Regions from separate parts of the Homo sapiens genome. Here all the other regions are linked to region 3. Evidence: fine-mapped expression QTL. A gene starts in region 3. Each other region holds a variant in brackets. All regions are shown on one strand. Distances are between the middles of the regions.

Evidence for each region. PIP is the estimated chance that this variant, and not a neighbour inherited with it, causes the effect.
Region 1: its variant is fine-mapped to the expression of MCMBP in lung (TOPMed, PIP 0.95).
Region 2: its variant is fine-mapped to the expression of MCMBP in whole blood (TOPMed, PIP above 0.99).

The regions. Positions count from the first base shown.
Region 1 is chr10:119,721,811-119,732,404 of GRCh38, forward strand. It overlaps INPP5F (inositol polyphosphate-5-phosphatase F), which reads left to right and starts at 4,240. Exons shown (of 20, transcript NM_014937.4): 1 at 4,240-4,549. The coding sequence starts at 4,453. RefSeq lists enhancers at 1-436, 3,239-3,288 and a silencer at 3,899-4,668. The variant G/T (reference allele first, on the strand shown) is at 6,318.
Region 2 is chr10:119,677,354-119,687,947 of GRCh38, forward strand. It overlaps LOC124902513 (a long non-coding RNA gene), which reads right to left and starts at 5,318. Exons shown (of 2, transcript XR_007062312.1): 1 at 4,958-5,318; 2 at 3,797-4,385. It overlaps BAG3 (BAG cochaperone 3), which reads left to right. Exons shown (of 4, transcript NM_004281.4): 4 at 1-466. It also overlaps the pseudogene TXNP1. RefSeq lists a silencer at 6,354-6,533 and enhancers at 9,283-10,219, 10,220-10,594. The variant T/C (reference allele first, on the strand shown) is at 4,078.
Region 3 is chr10:119,866,387-119,876,980 of GRCh38, forward strand. It overlaps MCMBP (minichromosome maintenance complex binding protein), which reads right to left and starts at 6,457. Exons shown (of 16, transcript NM_001256378.2): 1 at 6,141-6,457. The coding sequence starts at 6,198. RefSeq lists a silencer at 5,912-6,561 and enhancers at 6,792-6,951, 6,817-6,986.

The sequences.
Region 1 (10,594 bases), 140 kb before region 3:
GTCTGGGATGTGAGGAGCCCCTCTGCCTGGCTGCCCAGTCTGGAAAGTGAGGGGCGTCTCCGCCCGGCCGCCATCCCATCTAGGAAGTGAGGAGCGCCTCTTCCCAGCCGCCATCACATCTGGGAAGTGAGGAGCGTCTCTGCCCGGCCGCCCATCGTCTGAGATGTGGGGAGCGCCTCTGCCCCGCCGCCCCATCTGGGATGTGAGGAGCGCCTCTGCCCAGCCGCGACCCTGTCTGGGAGGTGAGGAGCGTCTCTGCCCGGCCGCCCCGTCTGAGAAGTGAGGAGACCCTCTGCCTGGCAACCACCCCATCTGAGAAGTGAGGAGCCCCTCCACCGGGCAGCTGCCCCGTCTGAGAAGTGAGGAGCCTCTCCGCCCGGCAGCCACCCCATCTGGGAAGTGAGGAGCGTCTCCGCCCGGCAGCCACCCCGTCCGGGAGGGAGGTGGGGGGGGTCAGCCCCCCGCCCGGCCAGCCGCCCCTTCCGGGAGGGAGGTGGGGGGTCAGCCCCCCGCCCGGCCAGCCGCCCCGTCCGGGAGGGAGGTGGGGGGGTCAGCCCCCCGCCCGGCCAGCCGCCCCGTCGGGGAGGGAGGTGGGGGGATCAGGCCCCTGCCCGGCCAGCCGCCCCGTCCGGGAGGGAGGTGGGGGGGTCAGCCCCCTGCCCGGCCAGCCGCCCCGTCTGGGAGGTGAGGAGCGCCTCTGCCCGGCCGCCCCTACTGGGAAGTGAGGAGCCCCTCTGCCCGGCCACCACCCCGTCTGGGAGGTGTGCCCAACAGCTCATTGAGAACGGGCCAGGATGACAATGGCGGCTTTGTGGAATAGAAGGCGGGAAAGGTGGGGAAAAGATTGAGAAATCGGATGGTTGCCGTGTCTGTGTAGAAAGAAGTAGACATGGGAGACTTTTCATTTTGTTCTGCACTAAGAAAAATTCTTCTGCCTTGGGATCCTGTTGATCTGTGACCTTACCCCCAACCCTGTGCTCTCTGAAACATGTGCTGTGTCCACTCAGGGTTAAATGGATTAAGGGCGGTGCAAGATGTGCTTTGTTAAACAGATGCTTGAAGGCAGCATGCTCGTTAAGAGTCATCACCACTCCCTAATCTCAAGTAATCAGGGACACAAACACTGCGGAAGGCCGCAGGGTCCTCTGCCTAGGAAAACCAGAGACCTTTGTTCACTTGTTTATCTGCTGACCTTCCCTCCACTATTGTCCCATGACCCTGCCAAATCCCCCTCTGTGAGAAACACCCAAGAATTATCAATAAAAAAAAAATTAAAAAACAAAAAACAAAAAACAAAGTTAAGCCACCTGGACTGCTGACCTGCAACATTAGCAGCCTCCAGGCAGGCTGGGGGAGGGGGGAATATATTTATATAAATATAAATCTCTTCTTTTGGGAGATTTCTCATAGACAAGACTGAAGAAAGTTATCACAGACAACAAACAAGACTATGGACAAGTAGACAGAAGACAGGAGATGATGTTAAAGTCAAATCTCACCAGAGGATACCAAAATCTAATCCAAAGATCTCAGAGATATTGAAGGGCTAAATCGATAATCACAGTTGGCTTATTTACCATCATTTGTGTAGGTTTAACTACGTGGACACATTTCCTCACATTGATTTCAGCACTGGAAGGGAACACTTAGTGATCATCTCTTTTCATAAATAAGGACCCTGAGATCAAAAGAGATTGAGTGAACTGACCAAAATCACACAGAACTGGCTAGAACCAAACTCCTTAGTGATTATACTTAAATTAGCATATATATGCCATACACGTAAAAGAAGATATATAATATGTATGATGGTCATCTGTGTTTAAAAAGGAGAGCAGCATCACGTGAACTTTCCATTAAAACCTGGGTGGCATCGGGGCAGGAGGACCTTGAATTAGGAAGCTGGAAGAGGGTGATGAGGCTGGCAAGTTAGCCACAGGCCGAGGATAGGCTAGCCAGGGAGTGGAGAGGCTGCAGTGGCCAAGGTTCAGGAAGTTCATAGCAGAAACAAGGCAAGGCAACTGTGGCAGTAGATTGGGGATGTGACATCTACCAGGGACAGAAAATATGTGCTCTTTTCACTCTGCTCAGCCAGGCTAGAGCTGTGCCTACCCCACAGCATGTGTTTGGAGCCTGAGGGAGACAGCAGTGTGCATTGGGGTCAGATAATTACAGAAGCATCTCCCCTCCATGTTTTCCTCTCTCCTAAAGACTTTGCTTGTTAACTCTGCATTTACAGGTAACCAAGCCCATATGATGGCATTAGTTAATGACTGACTGCTGTTTTTTTCCAAGCTGCTGTCAGGCAGATTTTACTAATTAATTTCACTTAAAATAGTGGTGTTCAAGCCTGACTGCATAGTAAAGTCATCTGGGGAGCTTAGAAAAAATAAACAAACTGATGCCAGAGCCCCACCCCAATTAAATTCTGATTTAATTGGTCTAAGGTCCAAGCATTGATATGTTTGAAAAATTCCCCAGGTGATTCTAATAGGCAGCCAGGGTTGGAACCATGGATCTAAAACATCAGGAAAAGTTTCAATGAACTAATTAATTGTTTTAAAACAGTTACAACAGCATTGTTTTCTTCACATCTGGCAATGTAATTCATAAAACAATAATGAAATAATTTGCAGGATACAATGTCTTCATAGGATTTTCTCATTCTCATTTTTGCTAAGTCAACACATGGCTGAATTAAACAATCAATCTGAAACCGATGGTTCCACTGAAGCTTCTTATAGCTTCATTACCTTCTTTCTCCAAATCACATCACAAAGATTTGATAGAGTAACCACCTCCCTCGACCTTTATGTTGAGGTGTCTGGACAGCACAGAGGCATGGTACTTAGAAAAGATTCCAGGACGCTTTGTTATCATTGGACTTTCTGTGCTATGGAAATTCAACACTGTGGGCTGGAATAACTAGTCATGTGGAACTCCTTCCTGCTTTTGTACCCTCTCACTTTTACTTGAGCAGAAGGTTAAAAGTATTGCTTTCTGAGAAGTCCCATTCGGTCACTCCTCTCTCTCGCAAGAGAGACAGCTGTTCTCCCTTTTCTTTTGCCTATAAACTTCCGCTCCTAAACTAAAAAAAAAAAAAAAAAAAGTATTGCCTTATTTTTCTCATCTCCTACTTCTTGTCTTTTTCTCTTGTTTCCGATTCAGGCATTAGAGAAGGCAAGGAGTTAGGAGTAGGAAGACTCAATGATTTATAGAACTGGGGGTGTCATAAAAGGTCATTAGTTCAACCACCATCTGAGACCAAGAGACTTCCCCAAGATCACACAGCTAGATAGTCCTCGAACTGGCCCCGGAAGTGGGGGCCTCATTCTCCAGACCCATTCTGTTCAGGATATCAACTGGTTTTTCAAGACAGACTGAGCTCAAGGATGTTTGGGGGAGACTCCTCCTTCCCCGAGAGGGTCTCCATTCATCTTATCCTCGCCAAACGATATTCCTTCCGCTTGCTTCATTAACTGGCTCCATTTGTGAAGTCTTCTCCAAACCGCCCTGCTTAATTCGGGACACAGCAGCACCTGTACATTCCTCCCTTCCTCCTCGCTCTTTAGCCGCGTGCTGCTAATGCTTGTGTGTTTTCTATTGTTACATGCTTTCCCTCGTTGATGTGCATTTATTGAATGCCTCCTGTTGTCAAACTTCTAATAGGGAATACGAAAACAGAAGACGCCTCCGCTTGGCTGTGGGCCTGGCTGGGGATGAACCCCTGTAGCCAGGCCCCGGGGTCTCGCCTGGTTTCGGTACGGGCAGGCAGCGCAGGCCCGCGGGGAACGTACCCCGCACCGCTCCGGGAGAGCGGGTGTGGGGTTGGATTCAGGTCTCGGCCTGGCGAAGCGTGAGCGCCTCCCTGCACGGAGGGGAGGCCCCAGCGGTGGGCGCCTGTCCCCAAGGCCGCGCGGAGGGAGGCGGTCAGTCCAGACCGACTCGGCCGAGCTCCCGAGCTGCCACCGGTGACCACGACAGGAAGGCTGGCGCGCCGGGGGAGGGGCCTGGGCAAGAGCGGGAGGGGCGGGCGGAAGGACGAGAGGGAGGAGGAAAGACCCGCGGGGAGGAGCTGGGAGGAGACACCCGGGAGAAGGCGGAGGAAAGGGCAGGAAGCGGGAGGGAGCTGAAAGGAGGAGGAGGCTGAGGGGCGGAGCCGGGCGCTCGGGGAGAGTAGCCAGCAGAGGGGGTGGAGCCGGGCCTGGGGCGGAGCCAGGGAAGGGGAGGAGCGGGGGGGAGAGGCCTCTACGGCCGCCGCTGCCGCCGCCGCTGCCGGGGCGCGTTCTCCTCCTACCGGTCGGGTGCCCCGGGGCGTTCCCTCTGCCGCTGCTTCTCGGCGCGGTTCCTACCCGGCCGCTCCCCGAGGCGCGGGCTCTGGCGGCCTCGACCGACTAGGACGCCCCGTGCGCCGCCCGCGGGCCGCCGCCTCCCTGGGCGCGCGGGGCCAGCATGGAGCTCTTCCAAGCCAAGGACCACTACATCCTGCAGCAGGGCGAGCGCGCGCTGTGGTGCAGCCGCCGCGACGGCGGCCTCCAGCTCCGACCCGGTGAGGCTGGCGGTGCGGGCGGGGGGCACCCCGGGCCAGGGCGGGGAGAGGAGGGGGCGCGGCCGGACCCCTCAGCCGGGCGGGAGGAGCCGCCTGCGGGCCTGGTGAGGCGGGGCGGGGCGGGCTGCGAGCGCGCGAGCTGTCATTATTCCCTGACTGGAAGGAGCCTGGCCTTTCTCCGAGACAGCGCCGAGCCCCTACCCCAGTGCGGAGCAGAAGGGGCTGGCGACCCTCGTCCTTCCCACCGCGTCACGCGGCCGCCCTTGGGGCTTGGGGCCCAGGCCGAGGGGAGGGGGTCCCCTCCGGCAGAAAGTTCCAGCAAGGTGCACCTGGCCGTAAAGGCCTCTTCCTCCTTGGAGTAGTTCTTACATGGCCTTCGCCAGAAGTTCTGGGTTCGAATTCCGATCTGGAGCGGTTGCGCCAGTTCCGTCTAGGGCTCTGCTGGACACTCACTCCCTGTTGCCATCCCGTGTGTTCTTGGTCCCTTATTATTAAAGGTGTGACTTTACTGTGGTTACCTCATAGGCACTCGGTTTAAAGCCTTTGTCTTTGACTTTAATACCACAGCACAATTAAATTGTATTGTAATGTATAATTTTGAGATTTTTGTGTGACTTGATGTTGTGCGACACAAAATGTATTGTGGGTCCATGTTTGGGTGTCATGTAAGCTGTTCGGAGAGGCTTAAGTCTGCAATTAGCTTGCTTTAGGAAAATGTGTGTGCAGTCGTGGTTTAAACAGAGCAGTCCCTGCCCTCAGAGCGCTGACAGTCCAGTTTCTTGTAAGATGGGGCTGGGTGGCACCTGCCCCTTTTGGCTTGCTAATCCTTTCCTCATATCACTCAGAGATTCTTCCACTTTAGGGAAAGCGAGAGGATAGAGTTCTTTAAGGAAGGAGCCAGAGCTTTTCAGACTTACTTGTAATTCTTATGTGCAGTCTAGACAGAAGGATTACATGATATGAATTGAAAAGGATAAAAGGTTCAGATGAGCTTTTCAGATCACAGCGTGGTATCACTTATAGGATGGTTTTTAAGGACAGGCCCTTTAACATATTATTTCCAATCCCCACAGCAACCTTACAGGACACGTGTGGGATCCTCTTTTTCAGGTGAGGAGAAAGGAGTGAGAGGTTATTAGTAACTCGTTCGGGGTCACAGCCTAGAGTTGAGACACTGACACAGGGCAGTTCTGTGACCTCCAGAACACTTTTGGGCAGGCCCCACTGCTTTCTTAGGAAGGCCTACTAGTTGCTTTGCCAGAGCAGTGAAGGATAACTTATTTTTTTCCTCAGGCTCTGTCTATATTTTCTTGCTATTACGTTGTATTTCCTCTTTTCAGAATGGAGGATAAACTCCTTGGCCCAGATAAAGTTCTTGATGATCTCGGGATAGAGTTATTATGGATAGGCTAATTTTGGCCAGTCTTCTGTCATTCTCTTCTCTGATTTGACCATTTGTCTGGCTTTCTCCCCTTCCCTCCTTTCACTCCCCCAAATTTGGGTAAGGCTTCAGTACAGCTTGAAGTAAAGCAGATTTCAAAATTCCTAGGTTGTCAAAAGAGTCAACTCCTTGGATTCTAAAAGCTTAGACTATTAGAACTGGATGGGACTTAAGATCGTCTCCAACTCATCTGACAACAAACTTTTCTACACCCCAGTTTCTTGAACTATAAAGGCTAACCTGCGCCTAGATTCTTGGATGAAGCCATGCAGTTTGGATTACTGTTTGTTCAAAGTCCATGTCAGAAGGCAAATTTAAAACTTTTTT[G/T]GGGGAGGAAAGTAGCTATAGCCTTTGCACTTGAGATTGGCATACTTTTTAGAATATAGCGGGCCACAGACCAAGTAGACCAAATGTCTGGAGGAAGGAAGAGGCCATGTTTCAGAAGTAACAGCCAGTTTTGATCTTAAGGTGTTCAGGATAGCCAGGGAATAAAGAATCCCATGCACTTGATTTTCCTATAGTTTATCCTGTCCAGGACTGAAGATCCTTTCTAACTAATGGCTATTTAAGAATGGCATTTTAATTGAATAAGTGCTTTTCAGATCTTTTTCTGTATATGGAATCATTTAAAATTCTCTTTATTTTATTGGACTTTTCCCCTGTGCTTTTATGGCAAGTTTTGCTGCTGTTTGTAGTGACAGCATTTAAAATCTTTCATTGTTTCCTACTGGTTATTTAGCTGAATAGATTACTAAGTCCTTTTCTTTTTTGAAAGGGCAGTATTATAAGCTCAAAAAAGCTTGTGGGCATCGTGGTTTTTACATTCGTGACTATTGAACAACCTGAAACAAGAGTTTTCCTTTTTCTAGAGACATCAGAAGGATAAGTAATGATGATATTTAAGATTAAAATACTCATTTATTTAGCCTGGAATGTTTGTTACTGTCAACCCCTTTTCCTACCTAGTCCATTCCATAAGACCCAGCTCAGATGCTACCCCTCATCCTTGGGGCAGAATTATTGGCCACCTTTATTGTGTTTCCAGGCATTTTCTACACTTAGTGGACACTTCAATTCTAACCCTTATGCATCATCATAATAAAAGTTTGCCTACTTCTTCCCCGGTGGGAAGTCCCAGTGTGTTCCCCAAGGCAAGGGCTGTATTTACTCCTCATCTTGGTGTCTCTAGGCTTTAGAGTACTTAGGACAGAGAAGGCGTTTTTGTTTGAGTTGAGCTGAATTAAAGTTAAGTCTAAGTTCTCTCTCAGTAATATCATTGCCTTAAAAATAAGATGTTGTATTATGTTTGTTGCTCTTTTTAGGCCTGTTTTTTTGGGGGAGGGGGAAAGGGCGGGGCGGGCAGTGGACAGAGTCTTGCTCTGTTGCCCAGGCTGGAGTGCGGTGGCGTGTTCTCGGCTCACTGCAACCTCTGCCTCCTAGGTTCAAGCGATTCTCCTGTTTCAGACTTCTGAGTAGCTGGGACTACAGGTGTGTGCCACCTCACCCAGCTAATTTTTGTATTTTTTGTTAGAGATAGGGTTTCGCCATGTCGGCCAGGCTGGTCTCAAACCCCTGACCTCAGGTGATCTGCCCACCTCGGCCCCCCAAAGTACTGGGATTATAGGCTTGACCCACTGCGCCTGGCCTCTTTTTAGGGCTGTTTTGAATATATTTTAATTGGAGTGGAAAATCTCTGTCCATTTGGATGAGGAAATATGAGGAAAGGTACACCTGCACTTGTGTTATATTTCTATCTGATGTAGCATTATCTCATTATCTTTTTTTTTTTTTTCTGAGACAGGGTCTTGCTCTGTCACCCAGGCTGGAGTGCAGTGGCGTGATCATGGCTTGCTGTAGCCCCTACCTCCCGGCACCAAGCTATTCCTCCCACCTCAGTCCCCCAGGTAGCTGGGACTACATGTGTGTGCTACCACACCTGGCTAATTTTTTTTTTTTTTTTTTTTGGTAGAGATGGAGTCTCACTATATGGCTCAGGCTGATCTTGGCCTCCTGGGCTCAAGCGATCCTCCCACCTTGGCCTCACAAAGTGCTGGAATTATGGGCATGAGCCACCACACTGGGCTTTTAAAATATCTTTTTGGTAGTATTCCTTACTTTCCTCTTTAACATTATTTAAACTTTTTCAGGTTTTTTTTCTCCTAGTTAAAAAACGAAGTATTGTTTTTTTTCTGGTGTTTCTAATTTTTTTAAGGGTAATGAGTAATCTGTATTCATATATAGCAGTTTTTTGATAGATGCTTAGATGCTTATGTCTGTTGTAAGATAATGACTACTACTTCTCTTTTCTTTTTTTTCTTTCTTTTTTGAGACAGAGTTTTGCTCTTGTTGCCCAGGCTGGAGTGCAATGGTGCGATCTCGGCTCACTGCAACCTCCACCTCCCGGGTTCAAGCGATTCTCCTGCCTCAGCCTCCTGAGTAGCTGGGATTATAGGAACCTGTCACCACGCCTGGCAAGTTTTTGTATTTTTACTAGAGACAGGGTTTTGCCATGTTGGCCAGGCTGGTCTCGAACTCCTGACCTCAGGTGATCCACCCTCCCCGGCCTCCCGAAGTGCTGGGATTACAGGCATGAGCCACCGCGCCCGGCCTGGTTATTTTATTTTCTACAGGGAAAGTGATAAAGCACCGTGTAAACATTCAGTAATCTTCTGAGAGTAGAGTCTAATATCTCAGGATAAGAATTGTAATTTGAAGATTCAAAAAGAAATATAATACAATCCACTTTGGGGGAATGCTGATATGGTCTTATCTCTTTGGTCTTAAAATTGCTTCCTCTAGTCCTTGTGGCTTTGTCTGATATGACAGTATTATATAATTTATAGCTGTGTGTAAATTATATAATAATTCACATTCTGTTCTGAGACTGAGCGACCAAGAAGAGATCTCAAAGCATCTGTCATACACATAACATTCATAAACATAGAAACTGTATATGGAAAGGTGATACTCTAAGTGATGAATCCCAGTGAACTTTTTTTTTTTTTTGAGATTGAGTCTCGCTCTGTTGCCAGGCTGGAGTGCAGTGGCGTGATCTTGGCGCACTGCAACCTCTGCCTCCCAGGTTCAAGCAATTCTCCTGCCTCAGCCTCCCGAGTAGCTGGGACTACAGGCACGCGCCACCACGCCCAGCTAATTTTTTGTATTTTTAGTAGAGATGGGGTTTTACCATGTTGGCCAGGATGCTCTCGATCTCTTGACCTCGTGATCCGCCCGCCTCTGCCTCCCAAAGTGCTGGGATTACAGGCATGAGCCACCGCGCCTGGCCTGAACAATTTTTTGAGGGATACTAGGTATTAGTTAGAATTCACAGAAATGTTAAAAATTTTTTCTGTTCTTCTTAGAGTTAATTTTTGATAATGAAATTATTTTTACTATGTCATATGAGGTTAACTTTTTTGAATGAGAAATCATAATTATGGAATTGAAATCCACCTGGAATTTTTTTTTGAGGTATCATTTTTGTGAAATGATTCTGTTTATTTGGAGTTTTGTGGCATTTGGTATTTACTTAAAAAAAAAAAAGGATTTTGAACTTTATCTTTTTAAAAAATTCTGTTTGTAGCTAGGCATGGTGGCTCGCGCCTGTAATCCCAGCACTTTGGAAGGCCGAGGTGGATGGATCACTTGAGGTCAGGAGTTCAAGACCAGCCTAGCCAACATGGTAAAACCCCGTCTCTACTGAAAATACAAAAATTAGCTGGGTGTGGTGGCGGGTGCCTATAATCCCAACTACTCGGGAGGCTAAGCCACAAGAATCGATTGAACCTGGGAGGCAGAGGTTGCAGTGAGCTGAGATGGTGCCACTGTACTCCAGCCTGGGCAACAGAGTGAGACTGTCTCAGAAAAAAATATTGTGTTTACTAAAAATTTGCAAATTACCATGACAGAATTTAATAGGGCACTTTAAATTACATATTAAATGGCTTACAAAATCTTTCTGATCATTTTTGTTGTTGAATAACCAGGTTTTTTCTTAGTGTATTTAGTCTTCAGTTTTTATAATGGGTTACTAGTTTTATATCTTATACTACTTTTTACTCCATATTTTATATTGCTGACAGGCTAACAGTTGGGTTGAATAGATCTGTATGTTTATTTTTATGCATGTACATATTTGTATGACTACGTTTATTTCCCATTTAAAGGTAGAAAAGACTTATCTTTACAAAGTTTTCACCCCACCCATTTTTGGCTTAAATAAAAGAAGACAAGTGGTTTTTTTTTTTTTTTTTTTTTTAGTGTAGACAGCCCAGGCTGGAGTGTGGTGGCATGATCTTGGCCCACTGCAACTGCAACCTCGGCCTCCAGGGTTCAAGCGATTCTTGTGCCGCAGCCTCCTGAGTAGCTGGGACTACAGGCGCCTGCCATCATGCCTGGCTAATTTTTTGTATTTTTAGTAGAGACAGGGTTTCGCCACGTTGGCCACGCTGGTCTTGAACTTCTGAGCTCAGGTATTCTGCCTGCCTCAGCCTCCCAAAGTGCTAGGATTGCAGGCGTGAGCCACCACGCCTGGTAGGAGTACAAAGTCTTTCTAAGGTGACTGACAATTTTTGGAATCAGGTTTTACAGATTGAGGGAGGTTT
Region 2 (10,594 bases), 190 kb before region 3:
AGACTTTAAGTCAGTTGGTTTTTATTAGCTGCTTGGTATGCAGTAACTTGGGTGGAGGCAAAACACTAATAAAAGGGCTAAAAAGGAAAATGATGCTTTTCTTCTATATTCTTACTCTGTACAAATAAAGAAGTTGCTTGTTGTTTGAGAAGTTTAACCCCGTTGCTTGTTGTTCTGCAGCCCTGTCTACTTGGGCACCCCCACCACCTGTTAGCTGTGGTTGTGCACTGTCTTTTGTAGCTCTGGACTGGAGGGGTAGATGGGGAGTCAATTACCCATCACATAAATATGAAACATTTATCAGAAATGTTGCCATTTTAATGAGATGATTTTCTTCATCTCATAATTAAAATACCTGACTTTAGAGAGAGTAAAATGTGCCAGGAGCCATAGGAATATCTGTATGTTGGATGACTTTAATGCTACATTTTAAAAAAAGAAAATAAAGTAATAATATAACTCAAAATGGTTTTTGTGGTTTCTAAATCTTTGAAAGCAGTGGCATCATGGAGATTGTCTGTCCCTGGTTTCAGTCAGAATAAATGACAGGTGCATTTAACAAGCCTGCTTTGGGTTTTGTGACGTCTCCAATAGCCCGGCTCAAGAGAGAATTGTCTTGGTCACCTTTCAGTCTCAGATTGCAACAGGAACCTGGGAAGACTCAGGGCTGTGAACTCCGGTAATGGGAACATGCCTGCTGCATCCGTTCGGACCGACCCAGCCAACAGCCAAGGTGCCAGTTAGGTAGCATGTCTGCCCACCTGTCCTCAGGCCTCACCAAGAAGCTGAGATTGTCCAAAAGTGCCCAGAGGGCCTGGCGCAATGGCTCACACCTGTTATCCCAGCACTTTGGGAGGCCAAGGCAGGAGGATCCCTTGAGGCCAGGAGTTTGAGACCAGCCTGGGCAACATAGCAAGACCCTGTCTCTACAAAAAACAAATCAGCCAGGTGGTGGCATGCGTCTTCAGTCCCAAGCTACCAGGGATGCTGAGACGTGAAGATAGTTTAAGTCCAAGAGATGAGGCTGCCGTGAGCTGTGATCCCGCCACTGCACTCCAACCTGGGCAACAGAGTTGAGACCCTGTCTCTAAAAATTAAAAAAGGAAGCGCACAGGGAAGCCAGCTCCCACTATTGCCCAAGGCTGGCCAAAGTGTTCCTTGGAGTCTAGGTCACTGGGGGTTGGAAATGTGCTCTGAGAATCTTGGGGTCATCTTTATTAACACCTTGTGAGTCACCAAACCAAACTGAGACCAGATTTATCTTCCTGGATTGGGTTCCTAGAAGCCTCTGGAGTTAGGGACGAGATACACTCAGGCCTGGGTAGAAGGAGATTCTTCTTGCTGTGCCAGTGGCTTTTTTTTTTTTTTTTTAACCTTGGGAGGGACCACAGCCCCACAGCATGGAGATGTGCTGGATTTGTTTATTTTTTATTTTTATTTTATTTATTTATTTAACTACTTGCCAAATAAAGTGAAAAGAGAAAGGCCTGAGACCTTGGAACTCTCAGTGAAGTGCTGACTTAAGAGCCCCCGAGCTGAATTTCTCATGACTGTATTGAGTTTAATACTGGTGCCTGACGATGCTGCACAAAAATACACCCTGGTGTGCTTGCCACTGTTAGCCTGCTGAGGAAGGCTGAAGTCATTCCCATGGGAATCTGCCAACATCATTCCTGGGTGAACTCATTTGGGGAGTACAAGCCGACATGCCACTGATTCTAGAAACTCGAACATGTAAATAGGAAAAAAAAAAAAAAATACTAGACTATTTTAAAAATGAACCAGGCTGGGTGCAGTGGCTCATTCCCGTAATCCCAGCACTTTGGGAGGCCGAGGCGGGTGGATTACTTGAGGTCAAGAGTTCGAGACCAGCCTGGCAAACATGGTGAAACCCCACCTCTACTAAAAATACAAAAATTAGCCGGGCGTGGTGGCATGCACCTATACTCCCAGCTACTTGGGAGGCTGAGGCACGAGAATTGTTTGTACCTGGGAGGCAGATGTTGCAATGAGCCGAGATCACGCCACTATACTGCAGCCTGAGCAACAGAGTGAGACTCGATCTCAAAAAAAAAAAAAAAAAGAACCAAAGATGATGTGACCACTTCTCTTTGGGACTCAATGGACCTCATACGACGTTAAGCCTCCTTGAGTGGTTACTGGATTAGGTTGATAGTATTTTTATCACTAAACATCATCAAATAAGTAGCTGTTTAATGTGGTTGGAATATTTTCAATCATCCAAATGAGACATGCTGTGGGCATCAGGACGGGAGTTATCTGGCCTGTGTTGGTGGCCCCTGGGCCTTGTGTGGGGAGCAGGGCATAGAGCTAGCTGTACGCTCTTGGTGACACAACTGTCTTGGCCCCTGTAGGCATTGGGGGGCTACAGCCACTGAGCATCTACCGAGTGTCAGGGCTATTTCCTGCGATGCCTGCTCAGGCCCTCTCTATCTGCTTTTCCAAATCTTCCGACTCCATTTTTTTTTTTTTTTTTTTTTTGAGATGGAGTCTTACTCTGTCGCCCAGGCTGGAGTGCAGTGATGCAATCTCAGCTCACTGAAACCTCTGCCTCCCGGGTTCAAGCGATTGTCCTGTCTCAGCCTCCCGAGCAGCCGGGATTATAGGTGTGCGTCACCCCGGCTAATTTTTGTATTTTTTAGTAGAGATGGTTTTTTGCCATGTTGGCCAGGCTAGGCTAGTCTTGAACTCCTGACCTCAAGTGATCTGCCCACCTCGGCCTCCCAAGTGCTGGGATTACAGCTGTGAGCCACCATGCCCAGCCTCCAGATCTTCCCACTCTGAGGCCCACCTTGGGTTGAAACTTTCCCCACCTGGACCACGCATTCCTTCTCAGACTCTCCCTTCCCAAAGCTCCTAGCACCCTTCTGTGCATTTGCCAAAACCCAGTTGTTTTCTCAACATCCTGAGTCATTTCCTCAGCAAGACAGAATCCCCGGAGGGGTGGCAGGTTCATTCCGACACTTCCTTCTTCCCACATTGTTGTCCAGACCTGGGCACAGAAGCACCCTGGATGGTCAGGGAGTGCTTAAAAGTCCCTTCCACTTAAGATGTTAGGATTCTAAGGCTAAATTGATGTTCCTGCACAAATAAATACCTCTTTAGGAGCTGTGAGTTGAGGGCCAACTCTTTCACCAACTTTCATAATTCCCAGATATGTAATTTATTTAAGTTAATTTATGTAAGTAATTTCCTCTCTCTGTGCCCTTTGCTCTCATCTGTGAAAGGAGGGCCTTGCCCAAGGGCCCTCTTGGTGATCTGGATGTTTCTGGCAGGTCTGCACTTGGCTACTGTTGTGGTCTCTGCCTTGGTATTTCTCCCTTAGCAGCCTAGCCAGGAAGCATAGCGTGGAGCTCCATTATGGGCTGTGCGGTCCTGCAAGCCCCTGTGTGAGTGTGGCTGGCCGGCCTGCCCACTGTCTGTAACATTATACAAATGTAATCGAATGCCAACGGACAGGATCCAGGGTTGCAGTTATTTTGGGATGTGCAGGAGCCTGTGGGAAAACGCTGGAACATGTCTTAGTCACTTGGGCAAATACCTTTCTTTCCCTGTTCCAGCGTGTTTTGAACTTTCAGGCAGCACAAAAAAAGCTCCAGCAGGCACACCCACCCTTGGTGATTCCGGTGCCCTTACACATCCTGTGGCTCTGAAAAGTGTGAGTGCAGAGGGCTGAGAGCGGGGCTGGGGAAGCCCTAGACACCCACCTATGGAAAAAATTGTAGCGCTTCCCTCAATACGTAATTCAAAATAAAAACAACAAAAGAAACGTAAGGAAGATGTGCAATTCCCACTTTATACTTTGTTGCTTCCTAAAAATTGTAAAATTTCCTCCACTCATGCGTATGTGCGCTTGGCCAGGTCCCTGCCTTCCTGGTACTCTGTTGTCCAGCACTACCCAGTAAGAACCACTGGAGACCAGGAAGAGCTCCATCAGTCCCCGCGGAGCATCTGAGCAGGTGAGGAGGTACAGGACCACAACAGAGGGCAGCAGAAGCCAGCAATGGTGCCATCCTGCGCTTGGTGGAAGGGATGAGGAGGCAGCCACAGGTCCTC[T/C]CGATGGACAGTGTTGCCCCCGCACCTCACACGTGGGCCCAGAGTTCCTGGTGCAACTAGAAGCCAGCCTGAAGGTGTGAAGGGAGTTGGAAAAAGCATTCCAGATGGAAAGGGTCTTTTTCTAAAACATTTTCTTGCCTGTCCTTGCCTTCTCTAGCCAGAGCTTTGCCCTAGGATCTGGCCGGCTGCATGGAGGCTGAGGAAGTTCTCCTCTAGTTTGAAGAGGGGAAATCCTTCTGCCAGCCCCTCACTCACTGTCTTCCACTTCATCTCTTTCTCTCTCCAATGGCTCTTTTCTTGTCCTTAGCCTACAGAAAACACAAACCAAAAAGAAATGCTTCCTCCTCACTTTACCCCCTGCCCCCACTTTTCTTTTTCTTTTTCTTTTTGAGACAGAGTATTGCTCTGTTGCCCAGGCTGGAGTGAAGTAGTGCAATTTTGGCTCACTGCAACCTCTGCTTCCGAAGTTCAAGCAGTTCTCCCACCTCAGCCTCCCGAGTAGCTGGAATTACAGACATGTGCCACACACCCAGCTAAATTAAAAAAAAAAAATCTATTTTTAGTAGAGAAGGGGTTTCACCATGTTGGCCAGGCTGGTCTTGAACTCCTGACCTCAAGTGATCCACCTGCTTTGGCTTCCCAAAGTGCTGGGATTACAGTCATGAGCCATCGTGCCCGGGTCACCACCCCCAGCTCACCACCCCCACTTTCTGATCACATGTCGTGGAAGAGCCAGCTAAGTCCCCTCACCTCCCACGTCCTGATCCACCTACAGCCATCCATTCCTGCACCCACCCCTACCGAAACCACTTCTGTGGGCACACTGTCACTGGTGTTATGCAATGTCTCCAGCTCTCCTCCCCAGCAGGCTCTGACTCACCCTCTTCCCTTGCCCTCTCTTCAACATCAAGGTCTCCAGGGTTCCTTCTTCAACCACCGCTCTTCCCACCATGTGAGGGTGTTTCAGGCGGCACCTTGGCTGGACCATAGCACCCAGCTATTTAACTCCAGCACTAGATGCTGCTGAGTAGATATTCTACAGACTTGGTTAACATCTACCATCGGTTGATTTCTCCCGGAGGAGAAGAAATTCTGCCTCAAGACTACAGCATCTGCCCTGGCTGAGTTTCTAGCCTGCTGCCCTGCCCTGACTTGCCCTGCCCTACAGCTTTCCAACTTGTCTGTCCCCACAATCATGTGAGCCAAATCCTTAAAAAAAAAAAAAATACACACATGGCTGGGTGCGGTGGCTCATGCCTGTAATCCCAGCACTTTGGGAGACTGGGGAGGGTGGATTGCTTGAGCCCAGGAGTTCAAGACAAGCTTGGGAAACATGGCAAAACCCCATCTCTATTTATAATAAAAATTAAACCCACACACACATACACATCCCCACCACACAAGCGCTGTATATGTGTATTTTGTTTCTCTGGCGAACCCTGACTGATGCATACTGTTCACACTCACCGGTTCTCCAGCTTCCTCCTCCCAGACCCCAGTCATCTCTGGGTCTGTTTCTGATACCCTCTTTTTTTCTTTCTTCTTTTTTTTTTTTTTAAAAAAGAGTAGAATTCATATTTTGTTGTCATCCAGATGGCAGTTGGGTTTATAGTCTCCATACTTTATACTTTATGTAAATAAAAATAATTACAAGTTTTAAATAGCCAATGGCTGGTTATGTTTTCAGAAACCATGATTAGACTAATTCATTAATGGTGGCTTCAAGCTTTTCCTTATTAGCTCCAGAAAATTCACCCACTTTTGTCCCTTCTTAAAGAACTGGAAAGGGCCAGGCACGGTGGCTCACACCTGTAATCCCAGCACTTTGGGAGGCTGAGGCGGGTGGATCACCTGAGGTCAGGAGTTCGACACCAGCCTGACCAACATGGAGAAACCCCGTCTCTACTAAAAATACAAAAATTAGCCAGGCCTGGTGGCGCATGCCTATAACCCCAGCTACTCGGGAGGCTGAGGCAGGAGAATCACTTGAACCTGCGAGATGGCGGTTGCTGTGAGCTGAGATTTTGCCATTGCACTCCAGCCTGGGGGACAAGAGGAAAAATCCATCTCAAAAACAAACAAACAAACAAACAACAAAAAAAAACTGGAAGGTTGGCATGCATTTGACTTCACATTCTGAAGCAACATCCTGACAGTCAGCCACATGTACTTCAAAGAATACCATGTTGGAATACTTTTCAGAGAGGGAATGAAAGAAAAGCTTGATCTTTTTGCAAGGCCCATACCACGTGGCTGAGAAGTCAACCATGACAAATTTATCACCTGCAGCCTCCAAGCCTTCCTGAAAAGCAACCTTGCTCTCAATTTGCTTCACCATCTTGGCTGCTAGGGTCTGAGGAGCAGCTGTAAGAACCGATGGAAACGGATCCAAAAGTGCCGGATCGAGCTTGGAGCTCTGGTACCCTCTTTCTCCTGAATGCCAAACTTATCTATGCCTACAGGGCACACAGAAAGGTGAGCATTCAGCTGATATCCTCTAGGAACCTGGAATTCAAATCCTGGGGTCCCCTCAGGGATCCCCCAGCACTGAGTCAGCTCTATCCCAGCACAAGCCTTCCACAAGGTGCGATCCCACAGTTCACAGAGGCCAGCCAGGTGGAGGATTGACAGAGCCAAGCTGTCACAAGTTGGATGTAGTCTGGGGGCAGAGCCAGGGACTGATGCTTGGCCCCACGCAGCAATTGTCATGTGGGGCATTGGTCCAGCGTTACAAGAGATTTCCAATTTTCCAGAAAGACCAGAAATTTGTTCCTGTGAAATCTCTCAATTTTTAATTTTTTTTTTTAAGATGGAATTTCACTCTTATTGCCCAGGTTGGAGTGCAGTGGCGCAATCTCTGCTCACAGCAACCTCCACCTCCCTGGTTCAAGTGATTCTCCCATCTTAACCTCCCAAGTAGCTGGGATTACAGGCACCCGACACCATGCCCGGCTAATGTTTGTAATTTTAGTAGAGACCAGGTTTCACCACGTTGCCCAGGCTGGTGTCGAACTCCTGACCTCAGATGATCTGCCTGCCTTGGCCTCCCAATGTGCCGGGATTGCAGGTGTGAGCCCCAGCCTGACAATGAAATTTTCCCATCAAGAGGTATTAAGGGAGGGACAGGCTTCATGAACCCTTTAAAAAAATGTTTATGTCACTTTTCACTCAGGGCAATGAGTGCTTACTTGCCCTACATTTTCATAACCAAAAGAGTACACACAAGACTCTTGTCTAAATGTGACTGTTCTCAGCCAACTCTGTCCACCCTCTGACACTGAAGTAGCTGACATAATTTAAAAATGTCTCCCAAAAGGTGCCCAGTTTCATTAACATTTTTTGGAGATAATTTTGACTAATTATTGGGTCACAAATTTCCTTCAGACAAAAAAAGACAAAAAGGCCCATTATCCCAAATATATACCTTTCAAACCCTTAGGATTTAAAAATACTAAAAACATGGTAACTTCTCCATGTTTGTTTTTTGTTCCTTATATTTCACTCTAACGATCAAGATACAAGAAAATACATAGAGGCGATCGATAGCTACCCTGATTTGATCCTATGCATTTATACATGTATCAAAATATCTTCAGGATAAGAACAACTATAATATATCAATAGAAATTTAAAAATTAAAGAAATTAACAAAAGAGTCTGTGCATGGTGGCTCACGCCGGTAATCTCAGCACTTTGGGAGGCCAAGGCAGGTGGATCACTTGAGGCCAGGAGTTTGAGACCAACCTGGACAACATGGCGAAACCCCGTCTCTACCAAAAATACAAAAAAAATTAGCCGGGCGTCATGGCGCATGCCTGTAATCCCGGCTACTTGGGGGGCTGAGGCTGGAGAATAGCTTGAACCCAGGAAGCAGAGGTTGCAGTGAGCCGAGATCACGCCACTGCACTGCAGCCTGGGCAACATAGACTCTGTCTAAAAAAAAAAAAAAGTAAGAAATTAACAAACAAAAGAAAATATATTGTTTAAAAATAAAATTACATTTCATAATTATTGCACGAACAGATTTAAGGATAAAGTTTCCAGTTAGAATGAAAGAGAGAAGGCATGTGTTTACAAACAAGCACGAGGCCCAAGAATAACTTACTGATTAGTATAAAATGTAAATGGTTGATTTTGCACAAATGCGATTTTTCTTTCTTTCTTTTTTATTTTTTTGTGGTCCACTGGAATGAGAAACTCAAAATCTTTCTTTAGAGCTAAGGCTTTTTTCTTCAATCGACTTCCTCAGGTTGAAAGGAGTTAAGGCTTTACCAAAGCAATTTGAAGGTTTGAAATCTCCAGGGAGATTGATTTATGAGTACAGTACACGTTAAGGCTACCTCTGACCTTGGCAGATTGTGGCTGTTAAATTAGGCCCTGGAGTCCTGAGACAGGGGCTCTTCATCTTAGCCTCCTAGCCTCCTTAGTATCTCACTGTGTGTCAGCAATTCCATGAATCCCATTGGATTCATGAAATTTCATTCATGGAATTGGATTCCTACTCATGGAATTTAATGTAATTCCATTGGATTCATGGAATTCCACTTCAGTTCTGTGATTCTCAGTAATATTTCTTTCTTTTTTTTTTTTTTTTTTTTTTTTGAGACAAGGTTCCTCTCTGTCACCCAGTCTGGAGTGCAGTGGCACGACTTAAGCTCACTGCAACCTCCGTTGGCCTCCCTGGCTCAAGCAATTCTCTTGCCTCAGCTTCCCCAGTAGTTGGGCACCACCATGCCCGGCTACTTTTCGCATTTTTCGGTAGAGAGGGGGGTTTCGCCATTTTGGCCAGGCCGGCCTCGAACTCCTGACCTCAGGTGATCCTCCCACCTCGGCCTCCCAAAGTGCTGGGATTACAGGCGTGAGCCACCGTGCCTGGCCAGTTCTGTGATTCTTTGGAGTGCCATGGCGCCATCTCGGCTCACTGCACCTCCGCCTCCCGGGTTCAAGCGATTCTCCTGCCTCAGCCTCCTGAGTAGCTGGTATACAGGTGTGTGCCACGACGTCAAGCTGATTTTTGTTATTTTACCTGAGACGGGGTTTCACCATATTGGCCAGGCTGGTCTCAAACTCCTGGCCTCAAGTGATCCACCTGCCTCGGCCTCCCAAAGTGCTGGGGCTACAGGTGTGAGCCACCACACCAGGCCTCAGGTCTGAGGTTCCTAATTCAGGACTCACCCGCACTAATTGAAACCTGAGGTGAGGGATTTCTCCTCGCTGACCAGTAGGGGGCGCGTCGTGACTGCGCCTTCTGCTTTCACTCCCCGCGCAGGGAAATCCTGTCCTGCTCTCTCAGGGAGCAGTTCCTGACGGTGGGCTCCATTTTATAATAGAATGACTCACCTGAAGAATCACTTCTTTCATTATTTCGTATTCCTCACAATACCAGTGACACACAAAGGCTTTATTTGAAAAACCAAGTAAAGGAAACGAGCACAGGATGTCTGTGCTGGTCTGGTCGGCGTTTATCTCAGCTGGTGAGAACGCAGCCACGCCTCTGTTCACACTGTCATTCCTCCAATAAATAAGATATCCCTGTTTTCTAAAGTCAGGGAGATTTATGAGTCAGAAGTAATCGGATCCACAATCTGATTAGAATTCTATCCTCATAACGGGAGCTGACCGCATCCGCATCCATTTGTGGTCCGGCCCAGTCACCACTTGGTTGGTGTTCTAGCACTATAAGCCAGACTGTGGGGTGGGGGAAGGTGAGTGCTCCCCGCACTTTAATGCCGGGCTTATTTTTCCCTAAGGACCAGGATCGAAATAATGTTAACAGGAAAAACATGCTTCCTCGTATGAGACTGCAGTATTTCACCTTGTATGAGAAAGGAAAAATGAAGGGTGAGACCTGCTTGTTTCTTACATAACTAGGGAGAAATCCATCCCCCCTCTCACCCCGTAGCTCTTCCTGGTGGCAGTAATGATCAGAACCGGGAGTACCCAACTTCTTTCATGCTTGGGGGACTAGAGCTGCCCCCTCCATGCAGAATGGGCAAAGTAAGGGCAGAGGAGATCCATTAGCATCACAATAGGCCTAAAGCCTGCATTTGAAAGCTTCAAGAAAAGACTGAGAGGCAATCTCTTGCTGTTTCCCCTAAAGGCAGATTGGCAGATCAGTCCTCCTATCCGGAGCAGCTAGAAAAGCTGGCAAAACAAACAAGACCTATCTGAAGGTGAGCCGCCAAGGGGGTGAGGATTTGAGGGTCAAGGTCCTGGAGAGAAGGGTTAGCAGAGCTTTGAATTTTGAGGCATTTGCCTATTTCATGAGGCAGAGAAGCTCCCAGCAGTCTCATGCTAAGGAAGGAAGAGCTCAAGTAGTCGCCGCCAGCTTTCAACTTCCAAAGGGCCTCACCCTTTGGAAGGAACAGGAATGAAAATAGAGAAACTCTCACAAAGACTGAAACCCAGCTTCCCATTGGCTTACCGTTTGACTGTGTTACAGGAAAGGGGTCTTGATCCAGACCACAAGAGAAGGTTCTTGGATCTGGAGCAAGAAGGAATTCAGGGTGAGTCCATA
Region 3 (10,594 bases):
AGGCCGAGGCGTGTGGATCACCTGAGATCAGGAGTTCAAGAGCAGCCTGACCAACATGGTAAAACTCCGTCTCTACTAAAAATACAAAAATTAGCCAGGAATGGTGGTGCATGCTTGTGATCCCAGCTACTTGGGAGGCTGAGGCAAGAGAATCGCTTGAACCCGGTAAGCAGAGGTTGCAGTGAGCCAAGTTTGCACCACTGCACTCCAGCCTGGGCAACAGAGTGAGACTCCGTCTCAAAAAAAAGAGAAAAAGATAGTGGTGGTGATGGTTGCACAACATCATTATGAATACAGTAAAAAAAATTCAATTGTACATTTTAAAATGTTAAATTTTGTTATGTGAATTTTATTTCAAAGAAAAAAAATTTTTTTGGACCAGCCTGAGCAACATAGTGAAACACCATCTCTACGAAAATACAAAAAGTTAGCTGGGTGTGGTGGCAGGCGCCTGTAGTCCCAACTACTCGGGAGGCTGAGGCAGTAGAACTGCTTGAACCTGGGAGGTAGAGGTTGCAGTGAGCAGAGATCGTGCCACTGCACTCTAGCCTGGGTGACAGAGCGAGACTCTGTCTCAAAGAAAAAAACCTCTAAAAGCAAAAACAGTTAAAAGCGGTTACTTCAGGCAGGGCACGGTGGCTCATGCCTCTAATCCCAGCACTTTGGGAGGCCGAGGGTGGTGGATCACGAGGGCAGAGGAGGTCGAGACCATCCTGGCCAACACGGTGAAGCCCCGACTCTACTAAAAATGCAAAAATTAGCCAGGTGTGGTGGTGGTCGCCTGTAGTCCCAGCTACTCAAGAGGCTGAGGCATGAGAATCGCTTGAACCTGGGAGGGAGAGGTTGCAGTGAGCCGAAATCGCACCACTGCCCTCCAGCCTGGGCGACAGAGCGAGACTCCATCTCAAAAAAAAAAAAAAAAAAAAAAAAAAAAAGTGGTTACTTCAATGGAGGGAGCACGTACTTTCACTCAGTTCATACCATCATGTTGATTTTTTTTAAAACCATGTGTAAGTTATTATAACTTAAAAACTCCTACGTATGCCATCTGCCATGGCTGCCGGAGCTATTCTTCTTCTTTGAGAACGCCCCCAATGTTGAGGTGTGGATAACAGTCACGATTGTCCTACCTAACTCTGTGCCATGGCCACAGATGACTGATCCCTGAGTGAATGGATTCCTGACTCCATGTTGTGCCAATCAGATTTTCTATGCCTGAAAATAAAGATGCTAGCTAGCGTGGGTTGGAACCGAGAACAAGTAAATTTGGGAGACATGGAGTAGAGAAAGAGAAAGTGTGCAGAGATTAATGTATCCCAAGAGAAGAAATACTGAGTTGCTTGGATTCCTGCTAGCTTTCCAGTTCCTGATTCCACTCAGTCTCTTCGAATACCCAACCACTTCCCCTGTTCTTGGGTTTTATAGCCTTAATATAAATTAACTTTTTTCAGTGGCCTACCAAGGACAGAGTGGTAGAAGAGGTCCAAGCTGGGTACAGACAATAAGGGCACAGATTGTCTGTTTAGATTCATGGTGATAATAAAAAGCAGACCAACTAACTTTTAGTTCATTTTATTATTGCTTTAAATTCTCTAAAATGCTAGTGATAAAATAGTCTGCTCTGCCCCTCTTCACCCAACCCTGCTCTTTTTTGCATGAGCTAGTCTAGTTCTGTTAGATACAACCAAAGAAGCTTAAATATAACGAGAATAATGATCTTGGTCTAACCAATAGTTGAAGGGAAAACAGCTAAAGAGGCTGGGCGCAGCAGCTCACACCTGAGATCTCAGCACTCTGGGAGGCCAAGTGGGGGCAGATCACTTGAGGCCAGGAGTTCAAGACCAGCCTGGCCAACATGGCAAAACCCTGTCTCTATTAAAAATAGAAAAATTAGCCAGGCATGGTGGTGCACACTTTTAATCCCAGCTACTCGAGAGGCTGAGGCATGAGAATGGCTTGAACCCAGAAGGCGGAGGTTGCAGTGAGCCGAGATCACGCCACTGCACTCCACCCTGGGCAACAGAGCAAGACACTGACTCCAGAAAAAAAGAAAAGAAAAATTTTGAGATTTGTGATCTCACTAGCCATTTCAATTAACAACATTTCTGATTAATCAGTCTTTTCACTGCTTTTGTTCAACAAGTGTCCACTGAGCACTTTCAATGTACAAGGCAAATTCTAAGAAATTAGGATACAGTGGTGAATAATGCAGATACAGGGGCCCTGAATTCGCGGGGTCAAAATCCAGCAAAGGAACTTCCGAAACAAGGAATTTCAACAATGCACTTTACACACTATTTTTCAAAGACATATATAATAGGATCCTGCAGTAACATGGAGCAGGGGTACCCTACTTTGGTACCTAACTTAAGTTCCCAAAGGAAAAGTAAGACTTAGCCAGAAAAGTGGACATGGGATGGGAGGGGGAATCAGGCACAAGAAATCAGCAGATGCAAAAAGGCCTAGACACAGGTTCAAAATTAAAGAACTGAAAAAAGGTTCAGTGCGGCTGGGATGGAGTATGAGGAGGGGGTACGCAGTGATAAAGTCTCAGAGCAAGGCAAGGGTGGAGCCAACAAGGGCCTCATAAACCACTTTAAAAGTCCTGGATCAGATAGTAAGGGTAACAAGAAGTCACTGAAGGACTTGGTTCCAGTATGGCAGGTGGAAGAGAAGCAAGACTGGAGGCAAGAAACCAGTTAGAGGGCTGTTCCAGCGTCCAGGAAAGAGACTACGATGGCTTTAATTTTGACAGTAGCATTGGAGATGAGGGTCTGGGTCGGGCGCGGTGGCTCACGCCTATAATCCCAGCACTTTGAGAGGCCGAGGCAGGCAGATCACCTGTTCGAGACCAGCCTTGCTAACATGGTGAAATCCTGTCTCTACTAAAAATACAAAAATTAGCGGCTCGGTGTGGTGGCTCACGCCTACAATCCCAGCACTTTGGGAGGCCAAGGTGGGCGGATCACTAGGTCAGGAGTTCAAGACCAGCCTGGCCAACATGGTGAAACCCTGTCTTTACTAAAAATACAAAAATTAGCTGGGCATGGTGGCATGCACCTGTAATCCCAGCTACTCAGGGGGCTGAGGCAGGAGAATCACTTGAACCCAAGAGGCAGAGGCTGCAGTGAGCCAAGATTGTAACACTGCGCCCTAGCCTGAGTGACAGAGCAAGACTCAGTCTCAAAAAAAAAAAAATTAGCTGGGCATGGTGGCAGGCACTTGTAATCCCAGCTACTCCAGAGGCTGAGGCAGAATTGCTTGAACCTGGGAGGAGGAGGTTGCAGTGAGCCGAGATCACACTGTTGCACTCCAGCCTGGGTGACAAGAACGAAACTCCATCTCAAAAACAAAAAAAGCAAAAACAAAAACAAAACCCCTAGAACGGATAAGATACAGTGACCAAATTCAGATCCTGAAAGAGAGTCAGTGAGTAGCTGGTTATCCAAAAAAACTAGCATCACATACTAAAAAGCGGTGTCCTCTAGATCAGTGCTGTACAGAGAACTTCCTGATGTTAGGAATATGCTAGATCTGTGCTAATATAATAGCCCCTATCCACATGTAGCTACTGAGCACTTGAAATGTGCTAACACCGAGGAGGTGAATTTTTAATTTTGTGTAATTTTAATTAATTTACATTTAAATAGCCACACATGGCTACTGCCCTGGACAGCACACTCTAGATTATTGTGACACCTAACTTAAAATATATGACAGGGTTAATAAGTTTATACAATACTATATGACAAGGACAGTAAGAAAGGGAAAAATTCAGGCTGCTGGATGCAGTGGCTCACGCCTGTAATCCCAGCACTTTGAGAGGCCGAGGCGGGCGGATCACGAGGTCAAGAGATCTAGACCATCCTGGCCAACACTGTGAAACCCCGTCTCTACTAAAAATACAAAAATTAGCCGGGCGTGGTGGCGCGGGCCTATAGTCTCAGCTACTCCGGAGGCTGGGGCAGGAGAATCGCTTCAACCCAGGAGGCGGAGGTTGCAGTGAGCCGAGATTGCGCTACTGCACTCCAGCCTGGGTGACAGTGCGAGACTGTCTCAAAAAAAAAAAATGCATATTTCAAAATAAAATACACAACAAAACTTAACTTTTCAGTTTAAAAAAACTGTCTAAATATATGCAGAGAAAATAAACTACACAACCACGAACCAGTGGTTATCTTGAAGGTGAAGGATCTTCAAAGATCTTTCCTTTTCTGCTATATGTTGCTGAACTGCTTTTTTCTTTCTGTACAATGCATATGCATTACCTATCTGGGGGGAAAACAATTTCCTACTAAACCAAAAAGTGCCTATAAGTTATCACACAAACATACTTGTAATGCTGTTATAATAAAGATATGCAATACAATCACAGTGATACGAAAATATAGCAACAGCTTCTACGAACACATTATGACTTTTCTATAAGACACAACGTACACGGGAACAAGACATTCTGGGGAGAAACACATCAAGAAACTTCTCAGGTTCCCACAACAATCCACATAATTTATAAAATACTCTGAAGCTATTATTTTATATCTAAGTTACATCCTTCCTGTACTATGATGAGATGTGTCCCTTAGGATCATACATTTAGAAGACAAAATTTGACACAAATACATTCAAATCTCTATCAAATATGAAATCATCTCATTTATCCAGCAAAATCAGAGTATGGGGTATTTCTAATAAATAAACTTTCTAATATTAGTAACTGAAATTTAACCCTTTAAGCACCAAACCTTTTTACTTTGGAGGGATTTTTCCTAAAAAGTATCTATGCATCTGCACCCTCTTAAACCAATGCTACAATTGAATCTTCACTTGACATTTTGGGGCCATTGTGTTGACCATCGATTATCATTTCTAGAATTCTTATGAACATAAATTACTAGGATTTAGTGGAGAAATATATGCCCCTTCCTCAAAGCACCCTTGACTGCTATATAGTGAATTTTTTTTTTTTTCAAGTATGAAGGTAGTTTTAAATTTCTTCATCAGGCTGTCAGTGTTCACTGGCTAAGTTCGGACGTCTATCCAGGCTTTTTTCTAATATAATGCCATTAGTTACAGCCTGGGAAGCCAGGTAACTAAACTAATTAGAATTACAGGTAAATTAATAAGGACTTCCTGAGTAAGCACTAGAGGCCCTCCTATAAGAAATACCATACATTGTTTGCCGTCGATTTTGGCTGCTGAGGATGATTTAGCTTCCCACTGCCTTTTCTCTCTAGTACCCCAAGATGTTTTTTTCAATGAGCTAAGGCCGCTCTACAACTCTAAGTTAACTCCAGACAAGTCAGGTGTTGCCATCTACAGTGATTTCTAGCTGGATCTGACTCCGCCACTCATTACGTGTAAAAAGACACTGGGGAATGGAACGGTTGTCAAAATGCCCAGTTAACGACAACAAATATAAACTTTTCTTCGTATACCCTTCGCAGTAAAGTAGCAACAGCAATCGCAACCAAAATTTACTAAGCTCGCCTGCAGGATTCTCAGCCCTGTGTACAAACTCAAGTAGCTCAATATTTCTTGCTGGCTCTGGCACAGGAGCAGATCCAGACTAGATGGGTTCTAAAGTCATCCCAACAGGAAAACTAAGCTATGAACATTAAATCTTATCTCTGAAAGAGAGAATGAGGGTAGCACAGGAGTTAGAACCAACTTCTGTGCAAGCGAGCACTCCCCGACGCACCGGAAGTTTTGAAATATCCTGTGGGCTTCCCACAGGCAAAGTGGTTTTCCCTCCCCGCGGCTCTGCGGGCCCTCCCCAGGGTTCGAGGACCTCCGAGTTTGCTGCGCCCGGGGCCGGGGCCCTGGCCCTGCCACAGGCTGGGAGCGAGGCCGTCAATCACAGCCCGCGAATCACAGCCCGCGCCCCACGACTTCACCTTGGCGGCTCCCAAGCTGCGACTCGGGCAGGTGGGAGGTACCTGCGGCCCGGCTCCTGCCCCTGCCTGCTGCGACCGGGGGAGAGGCTGTCCCAGCTGGGGCCGGTGCAGGCCCCGGGGCCCCGTCTCGGGCCACGCGAGCCCTCGAGATGGTACCGCGTGGGGGCCGCGCGGCGGGGCCCTGCCCCGGGGCCCGGCAAACTCGGCTGCCCGCCCGGCCCGCCCCCCGGCGCCGCCACTCACCGAAGAATCCCTGCACGATTCCCAGCGGGTGGCTGAGCCAATCCTCCCCACACGGCATCTCGCCAGGGGCCGGGGCCGGCGAAGACCGGGCGGAGGCGATCCGCGGGCCGAGCGCGGCCGGGCGGCCGGCGCCCAGCTCCTCTTCAGCGGCTCGGCCGCTCCTCGCCCGCGTTCGCTCGCGCCCTCCCACGCACAGCGAGCCGCGGGGCGCGGGCCTCCCGCGCCTCAGGGAGCGGCGGCTGCGGTGGGGCCGCCGAGGAGCTGCTGGCGACAGTCAGGCGGGCGCGTACGGGCCCCTAGCCTTCACTTCGCACAATGGCGGGAAATAGCCGCCGCCGACCGCGCTGCCTGCGACCTGGGTGGAGCTCGCGTGGGGAGGGGCGGCGGGAGCGCGCGGCGCAGCGCGGCTCTGCGCGGCGAGGAGGAGGGGCGGCGGCGGCGCCGCCATCTTGGAGACGGGCAAAAGGAAGGGCACGCAGCGCCGCTGGAGGCTGCGCAGCGCGGGGCCCGGCGACGCGCTCCAAGGGCGGCGCGTTGTCGTTTGTACCCCTGGGCCGGCGTGTAGCGGGAACTCCCATAGTGGGCTTATAAGAGGGCAAAGCGAGTCTGCACAACAGCTGAAAAGCATTAAGCTCAGAGACCTCAGAGTCATCTCTGGGCAAAATTAGTGGGCGAAACCGCCTTGGGAATCCGCCCACCTCCTCTTCGTGCCTTTTTTTTCTTTTTTTGCTGATGGCAGCACTTTTATTTGGGTCCCCGGCCCGAAACCCTGAGTGGTGACTTTTCCCTCAGCTGCACAAGGTCTCCCTGAGGAAGGTGCACATTTAGAGAAGGGGAACCTCGGAGGACCCCACGCTCCTTCTGCAGTCGCGTCAGGCCCTGTGGCTCAGGGACGGTTCCTTACCGAGGGGCGGGCGCTCTAAACGCTCCGGGCCCGGCCTGCGCCCTGGTTGCGAACACCGGGTCGGCGTCTGTCTGGAAGCTGGCAGCCGCCGTCGGGGAGCGGTGCGAGGCTCCTGCACTGCGCGCCGCTAGGATACCCTGGAGAAGGAAGCTACGAAGACCGACTACAGCAGCCTTTTGCTGAGGCAATTTGGAAAATACCCAAGTTCAAGAGTGAAACTGTGGGAGTCGCTCTGAACCTCTTCTGGTTCAGGAGGCTGTCCGATAAAAAAGAAAAAAAGAATGAAACTGTGTCTCCCCTGGGCCTGAAATGTACCTAAGAAAACCCCAGGCCCATCAGATATATCTACTCAATGAAAAAAGGGCATGGTGACGGAAGGGGAATGACCTGAATGGAATCTACAAAGTGAGGAGCTGAAGGAAAAAAACGGAACCCGTGTCTCAAACCCTCCTTGGGGCTGTAGGAAGGGGGGAAAATCTTTCTACCTTTCTAGGTTCTCCACTGCGGCCCTTATCACAAAGCTCGGATTGGCAAAAGAAAAATTTAGTAACATGTACATCTTATATGGGCAAAACTCAAGGAAGAGTAACTCAAACAGGTGGCTTAGAATGGGGGAATTACGTAGCATTTACAATAAAGAACAATAACTGGGGAGAAATGGCGAAAGCAGTTTGAAGTTTCCAAAAACAGCAGAGTGGGAAGGCAGAGATACGAGAAACTAATGGTAGTTACAGGTAGTGAGTAAAGTGTGTTATGTAGGTTCTTCTAGCGCCATCGCTGGCTGATAAGGGTCTAAAGTTGTCTCTGGTGACTAACTTTTGTCCCTGGTAGAAAGAGGAGGTGGGACACCTTTGAAAATGTATGTCCTGCTCTTAGGTACATAGTGGAAGGGTAGGGAGCTTGTTTTGTACAGATGCTCCTCTACTTACTCTACTTAGGATGGAGTTACATCCCAATAAACCCATTGTAAATTGAAAATATCATTAGTTGAGGCCCAGCGTGGAGCCTCACTCCTGTAATCCCAATACTCTGGGAGGCCAAGGCGGGCGGATCATGAGGTCAAGAAATGGAGACCATCCTGGCCAACATGGTGAATCCCCATCTCTACTAAAAATACAAAAATTAGCTGGGCCTGGTGGCGCACGCCTGTAGTCCCAGCTACTCTGGAGGCTGAGGCAGGAGAATCACTTGAACCCGGGAGGCGGAGGTTGCAGTGAGCCAAGATCATGCCACTGCACTCCGGCCTGGTGACAGAGCGAGACTCCGTCTCAAAAAAATAAAATGTCATTAGTTGAAAATGTGTTTAATACACGGAACCTATCAAACATCAGTAGGCTACTGCAAACATGCTCAGAACACTTACATTAGCCTACGGTTGGGCAAAAGCATCTAACACAAAGCCCGTTTTATAATAAAATGTTGAATATCTCATGCAATTTATTGAATACTGTACTGAAATTTAAAAACAGAATGGCTGTGTGGGTAATTGAAGTATGGTTTCTACTGAATGGGTGTTGCTTTCACACCATCATAAAGTCAAAAAATCTTGTCAAACCACCGTTAAGTTGGGGACTGTCTGGATCTACTTTTCAGTTACCAAGATAATAATATTATAATTAAATTAATAATATGAAAATAATCCTTATGCCAAAGTGGCACATTTTGGGGTGACATTCTGGTTTACTTCAGGGCAAAAACGAATAGTTTGTATTTCTTAGTGTAAGGTAATTAATTGACACACTCAATTGTACATCTGGTTCCTGTGAGTTTGGGTACGTTGAGAAAACTTGAGTTTCAAATCCAGGTCATTACCACCATTCCATTCATTCATTTAAGAGACAGGGTTGCCAAGACCCTGGCATCAAAAGGGGAAATCCCATATTTTCGCTTCATGGCCAGTAACAGGCAAATTAAATGTATGATATGGAAATGTCTGCTCTTAAATCCCTGTAAATTCAAATTTACTTTATCTAAATTGCAGCTTGATACCAATTCAGCAGTGGCTAGTGTAAGGGAGGAAAAATATCTTTTCCGTCTACCCTTCTAGATTCTACGTTGGACCCCCTGTAACAAAAGATAGATTAACAAGAGAAAAGCATGCACTTTATTTCATACACGTTTTACAAGAAATGGGAGCCTTCATAAGGAAATGAAGATCCAAAGAAGCGTTAAAACCAAGTGTTTTTATGCTAGGTTTGATGAAGAGAGTCATAGAAGAATGTGATAGGACAAAGGTTGTGAGCTAAGTCCAGCAAACTAGGGGAAATTTAGCAAGGCCTGTGCATTAGATTCCTTTCCGTGTCCCTTCATCTTTAAGATAGGATGCTCCTGTCCTCCAGGAAGAGGGAGGGCAGCTCTCATGTCAGGGTCTTATAATCTGCTTCAGGGGAAGGCCAGGGAGCCTTTCCTGCATGTGCTATTTCTCAAATTCCTTCAGCTTAAAATACTTAATATGCCAAGGTGCCATATTTTGGGGTAGCAAGTCGTGAATCCCATCTCTGTGAAAACTTCTTTTGGTTTCTTCCTTGGTAGAGTATTTAGTGATTTATAAAAAAAAAATTGCTCGGATTTTACTTAAGGAGACACTGTGATCCTTCTGAAATGTAATTATTTTATAATGTGAATAATTTAACCCTCTGATTTTTCTGTGGCAAGACGTTTTGATACTAAGTAGTTATGGAGCTGGGGGAGGTAGTGTGCACTTGTAGTCTCAGATACTTGGGAGACTGAGGTGGGAGGATCACTTGAGCCCAGGAGTTCGAGGTTACAGTGAACTATGATCGCACCACTGCACTCCAGCCTGGGAGACAGAGGAACACTCCATTTCTAAAAATAATAACAATGACAATAATAATAAGTAGTCATGAAAATGTAAAAGGCCAGGGGAGTGTTCATGAAGGTCTGTTTCTATGGCAAGATTTCTTTTTTCCCACTATCAGTAACCACACTTCTGCCCCGACCGCGAGCCTGTATTTTTATGGAGGGCATTAAGTAACTCTGTCTATAAAAAATTACTGAGAGAGCAGCCAGGCGCGGTGGCTCACGCCTGTAATCCCAGCACTTTAGGAGGCCGAGGCGGGCGGATCACGAAGTCAGGAGATCGAGACCATCCTGGCTAACATGGTGAAACCCCGTCTCTACTAAAAAAAAATACAAAAAATTAGCTGGGCGTGGTGGCACGTGCTGGTAGTCCCAGATACTTGGGAGGCTGAGGCGGGAGAATTGGGGGAACCCTGGGGGTGGAGGTTGCATTGAGCCGAGAGCGTGCCACTGCACTCTAGCCTGGGCGACAGAGTGAAACTACGTCTCAAAAACAAACAAAAAAACAAAAACAAACAAAAAAATTACTGAGAGAGCACTGGAAATATGGGGTGAAAAAAGAGATTCCATCTCTGCCCTCATGGAACATACAGTCTAGCAGAAGACTTATTACTAATTACTCACGAGAGGTGCTAGGCAAGAATAGATGAATATTTATAAGAGGAATAAACAGATGTGTATATGTTCTAGTGAGGGAATGCTAAGGGTTGAATGTGTCCCCCAGAGTTTG